Regions from separate parts of the Homo sapiens genome. Here region 1 is linked to region 2. The links come from fine-mapping of genetic effects on gene expression. A gene starts in region 2. The other region holds a variant in brackets. All regions are shown on one strand. Distances are from middle to middle.

Region 1 (2,907 bases), 27 kb after region 2:
ATGATCTGCCTGCCTCAGCCACCCAAAGTCCTGGGATTACAGGAGTGAGCCACCGCGCCTGGCCAAAAAAGTTGTTTTAATTAAAAATATTTTATTTTACTTTTTAAATTTAAATTTATTTTTTTGAGATGGAATCTCCCTCTGTCACCCCAGCTGGAGAGCAGTGGTGCAATCTTGGCTCACTGCAATCTCCGCCTCCTGGGTTCAAGTGATTCTCCTGTCTCAGCCTCCCAAATAGCTGGGATTACAGGTGTGCACCACCACACCCAGCTAATTTTTGTATTTTTAGCAGAGACGGGGTTTCACCATGTTGGCCAGGTTGGTCTCGAACTCCTAACCTCAAGTGATCTGGGTGCCTTGGTCTCCCAAAGTGCTGAGATTACAGGCATGAGCCACTGTGCCCGGCCAAGAATAACATTTTAAATTAAAAAAAGAAACAGGGTCTCACTATGTTGCCTAGTCTGGTCTCAGACTCCTGGGCTCAAGCGATCCTCCTGCCTTGGCTTCTCAAAGTGCTGGGATTATAGGCGTGAGCCACTGCTCTAGCCCCCCAGTATTTTTTTTAAAAGTAGAGACAGGGTCTTGCTATATTGTCCAGGCTGATCTCAAACTCCTTGGCTCCTCCAGTCTCAGCCTCCCAAAGTGCTGGGATTCACAGGTGTGAGCGACTACGCCCAGCTTCCTCCCTCCCTCCCTCCCTCCCTTCCTTCCCTTTTTTTTTTTTTTTTTTTGAGATGGAGTCTTGTTCTGTTGCCCAGGCTGGAGTGCAATGGCGCAATCTTGGCTCACTGCAACCTTTACTTCCTGGGTTCAAGTGATTCTCCTGCCTCAGCCTCTCAAGTAGCTGGGACTACAGGCACGCCACCGCCATGCCCAGCTAATTTTTGTATTTTTAGTAGAGACGGGGTTTTGCCATGTTGACCAGGCTGGTCTTGAACTCCTGACCACAGGTGATCCACCCCTCTCCGCTTCCCAAAGTGTTGGGATTACAAGGGTGAGCCACCATGCCCGGCCTTGGCTTATTTCACGGAGCGTGACATCTTCAAGGATCATCCTGTTGTGCCCTGTGTCCAGATTCCCTTCCTTTTCATGGCTCAGTAATATTCATGTACGGATGGAGTACATTGTGTTCATTCATTCATCTGTCTGTGGACACTTGGGTTGCCTCTACCTTTTGGCTGTTGTGGGCTGTGCCCCCATGAACATGGCTGTGCAAGGATCTCTTTGAGTCCCTGCTGTGAATTCCTTGGGGCCTTGCCCAGGAGCAGGATTGCTAGGCCCTATGGTAATTCCATGTTTAATTCTGAGAAACGGCCAGACTGTTTCTCGTCAGGCTCACTGTGTTCCATTTCCCACCTCAGAGCATAAGGGTTTTGCTCTCTCCACATCCTG[G/T]CCAACCCTTATCATCTTCCGTTTTTTGGTTGGTTACCCTGTGGCTACTGTTCCCCTTCTTGTTTTGTTTTTTTTTTTTTTTTTTTTTGAGATAGGGTCTTGCTCTGTCGCCCAGCCTGGAGTGTAGTCATGCAATCATAACTCATTGCAGCCTCAACTTTCTGGGCTCAAGGGATCCTCCCACCTCAGCCTCCCGAGTAGCTGAGACTACAGACATGTGTCATCATGCCTGGCTAATTTTTTGTAGAAACGGGGTCTCACAGCCGGGCATGGTGTTTCACGTCTGTAATCCCAGCATTTTGGGGGGCCTAGGCGGGTGGATCACCTGAAGTCAGGAGTTCGAGACCAGCCTGGCCAACATGGCGAAACCCCGTCTTTACTAAACATACAAAAATTAGCTGGGCGTGGTGGTGCATGCCTGTGATCCCAGCTACTTGGGAGGCTGAGGCAGGAGAATTGCTTGAACCTGGGAGGTGGAGATTGCCGTGAGCCGAGATCACGCCACTGCACTCCAGCCTGGGCGACAGACCGAGACTCCATCTCAAAAATAAATAACTAAGTAAAAATAAATACAGAAAAATAAAAACAGAAACGGGGTCTCACTCTGTTGCCCAGGCTGGTTTCAAACTCCTGGGCTCAAGCAATTCACCTCCTTGGCCTCCCAAAGTGCTGGGATTACAGGCATGGGCTACCACGCCTTGCTAATATTTTATCATTTTTTGTAGAGATGGGGGTCTCACTATCTTGCCCAGGCTGGACTGGAACTCCGGGGCTTAAGTGATCCTCCCCCCTCAACCTCCCAAAGTGCTGGGATTACAGGCATGAACCTTTCTTTTTTTTTTAAAAGAACAATAATGCCCAAGGTATCTGGGCTGCCAGGCAGGGCTTCTGCTGTCCTGGAACCACCTCCCTCATGTCTCTGTCCTGTCCTGGACTATTTTGGGCACAGTGACCGGCAGATCATCCTTACCACACTCTGTGCTTATGGGGAAGGAGAAGCCTTGGCAAGCCACCTCTTCCACGTCATCCTCCCATTCCATATCCACTCCTGCTTCCCCTCCAGCACGGAGACCTCAGACCCTCCCTGTGGCCCTGGACTCGACCTGGCATACACCACACCGTTCAGCACACATTTTGCACAGAGGGGCAAATAGTAAATATTTTTGGCTTTGCAGACAGACCTTCTCTGTCAGGGTGACTCAACATGCTATTGTAGTACTAAAGCAGCCACAGGGCTGACACGTACAAATGGCAGGGGCCGGGTGCCAATAAAACTTTATTTATAGGCATTGAGAAAAAAAATTTTTTTGAGACAGGTTATCGCATTGTCACCCAGGCTGGAGTGCAGTGGCCTGATCATAGCTCACTGCAGCCTCAACCTCTTGGGCTCAAGCAATCCTCCTGTCTCAGCCTCCTGTGTAGCTGAGGCTACACAGGTATACCACCATGCCCAGCTAATTTTTAATTTTTTTTTTTTTTGAGACGGATCTTGCTCTGTCACCCAGGCTGGAGTGC
Region 2 (2,907 bases):
TTCTCCTGCGCTAGCCTCCCGAGTAGCTGGGATTACAGGCATGTGCCACCAGGCCTGGCTAACTTTTGTATTTTTAGTAGAGACAGGGTTTCACCATGTTGAGCAGGCTGGTCTTGAACTCCTACTTCAAGTGACCTGCCCGCCTTGGCTGCCCAAGCTGTTGGGATTACGGGCGTGAGCCACCACACCTGGCCAACCCATTGTACGTTGAAAATGTAAATAAAAAATATAAAGGCCGGCTTGTGGCTCACGTCTGTAATCGCAGCACTTTGAGAGGCCGAGGCCGGCGGATCACAGATATTGAGACCATCCTGGCCAACATGGTGAAACCCTGCGTCTACTAAAAATACAAAAATCAGCTGGGAGTGGTGGCGTGCACCTGTAGTCCCAGCTACTCGGGAGGCTGAGGCAGGAGAATCGCTTGAACCCAGGAGGCAGAGATTGCAGTGAGCCCAGATCTCACCACTGCGTTCCAGCCTGGACGATAGAAGGAGACTGTCTCAAAAAAAAAAAAAAAAAAAAAAAAAGGCTGGGCAAGGTGGCTCATGCCTGTAATTCCTGCACTTTGGGAGGCCGAGGCGGGCGGATCAGGAGGTCAGGAGATCGAGACCATCCTGGCTAACACGGTGAAACCCTGTCTCTACTAATAAATACAAAAAATTAGCTGGGCGTGGTGACGGGCGCCTGTAGTCCCAGCTATTCGGGAGGCTGAGGCAGGAGAATGGCGTGAACCTGGGAGGTGGAGCTTGCAGTGAGCCGAGATTGTGCCAGTGTACTCCAGCCTGGGTGACAGAGCGAGACTCCGTCTCAAAATAATAATAAAAAATGAATTTAGGCCGGGCGCAATGGCTCACGCCTGTAATCTCAGCACTTTGGAAAGCTGAGGTGCCGGATCACCTGAGCTTAGGAGTTCGAGACCAGCCTGGGCAACATGGTGAAACCCCGTCTCTACTAAAAATACAAAAATTAGCCGGGCGTGGTGATGGGCACCTGTAATCCCAGCTACTTGGGAGGCTGAGGCACGAGAATCGTTTGAACCCGGGAGGTGGAGGTTGCAGTGAGCTGGATACCGCCGCTGCACTCCTGCCTGGGTGACAGAGTGAGACCCTGTCTCAAAAAATAAAATTAAAAAAAAAACAAACCTGATACCTCCCAGTGTTGTCAGTTGGCACATACTATGTCTCAATAAAATGCTTGCTGTTACCCTCTATTTTGAGACGAAGAGGGACCCTGTGTATGACAACCCCAGATTGACCTCATTTGCATTTTAAGTATTTAGAATGTGGGTAACAGTTTTCAGTGGAGGAAACTGCCACATAGGGACTAAAGCAGTCCCAGGGTCCACTCCAGGAGCTGCCAGGCGCGCTCGGCCACAGGTGAGCCATCCATTCGCCCAACCGGTGCTCCAGGAAGGCAGGAAGCGGGATGCAGGGCTTCAGCCTCACTTCTCGCAGCTTCAGCACCTGGGTCAGAGGAGAGGCGGGCGGGGCGATGAAGGGACCGGAAGTCGGCCTTTTTTCCGTCCGCTTGACCAGCGTCGACTGCAGCCAATGAAATCAGGGATGGCGAGTGTTCAGCCAGTGGTGAGGCTGCATCCGGGTGTGGGTGCCGAAAAGGCAGCTGGGGGCGGGACGTCGAGGTGCGGCACGAGCGGCGGGCGCACCGGCCAATAGGCGGCGGGGTTCGTTTCCCGGGGGTGGGCACTGGCGGGTGCGGTGACGTCGGCGCAGGCGCGTCGCGGCGGCAGGGGCGCGGGGCTTCTGGAGGCGGCGGCGGTGGCCAGCGCGGCGGCGCCGGCCGTATTCTCCGGGCTGCGGAGGGTAAAGAGCGGGCTCGGGCCGAGGCTGGAGGGCTGGGTGGGGCCAGAGCGGCGCTTCGGGGGCCCGCGGAGGACGAGGGAGGGAGAGAATCTGAGGAGCTGGTAGGTTTGGGGACCCATCTGGGTGACCGGGCCGGGGAAAGGGCTCGGCCGGGCGTGCGAGGGGCGTAGCGGCCCCAGGGATGCTGGAGCGGAGCCTTAGGGATGGGCAAGGCCTTGGGGGCGGGGGGAGGTTCTGCAAAGGGAGCCACTGGGGTCTGCCTAGGGGCTTGTGCGGAGATTGCGGGCGAGAAGGGGCAGAGGACGGTGGAGGAGACTCAGATGGGGCCCTTTTTGGCGGCCCGTTTTGGGGGGTAGGGGAGACGGCGGTTGGGGGACTTTGATACATGGAGCGTGGAGGAAGAGGTTAATCTTGCGAGGACAGTGGAGGTCAGCGGGGGAGGGAGGCAAAGTGGGCTTTCAGGAGCGTGGAAGGCGTCGTCCGGTTCTTGGAAAATTCAGAATTGGAGGGAGTCAGAGATGGTTGGGGGTGGGCGGGGGTGTTCCATCGATGAGGGTCTTAAGAGACCTGCCGAGGGCAAGGACCAGGAGGGGTTAAGGTAGTAACTTGGGAATTTTGATCGGAATGGCAGCACTTTGGGAGGCCTGGGACGATCGCTTGAGCCTTGGAGTTCCAGGCTGCAGTGAGCCATGATTGCACCACTGCACTCCAGCCAGGGCGACAGAGCGAGACTCCTTCTCAAAAAACAACAACACCAACAACAAAAGAAGTAGACTTGAGAACTTCGTTAAGACATTGGCCAGGGAGTAAGGTAGCCCTGGGATTTGAGGTTGAGGAGAACGTGCAGGAATGGTGGGGGATTTTGGCTGAGCAGGTTGAGAGAAGTCTAGGAGTGAGAGGCAAAAAAAGACGCAGGCAGCGTCGGGGAAATCAGAATTATGTGTCTGGAGAGAGTTTTGCGGGGTGAAGGTGGCCCAGTGGGGCTGTTACCAAACTTTTGAGTGGTTATGGGGCTCTAAGAGGTGACATGACAGGACCCAGCCCAGTAAACACAGCACCTCTTTTTGTCGAGTTTGGAGCTTCAGAG

What was found.
Region 1: its variant is fine-mapped to the expression of DAPK3 in whole blood (INTERVAL, PIP 0.94).

Annotation. Positions count from the first base shown.
Region 1 is chr19:3,942,699-3,945,605 of GRCh38, reverse strand. No RefSeq gene overlaps it. Among named protein-coding and RNA genes, the nearest start is that of NMRK2, 11 kb to the right of the region's middle. The variant G/T (reference allele first, on the strand shown) is at 1,393.
Region 2 is chr19:3,969,935-3,972,841 of GRCh38, reverse strand. It overlaps DAPK3 (death associated protein kinase 3), which reads left to right and starts at 1,743. Exons shown (of 9, transcript NM_001348.3): 1 at 1,743-1,921. RefSeq lists silencers at 1,759-1,888, 2,877-2,907 and enhancers at 2,060-2,691, 2,692-2,907.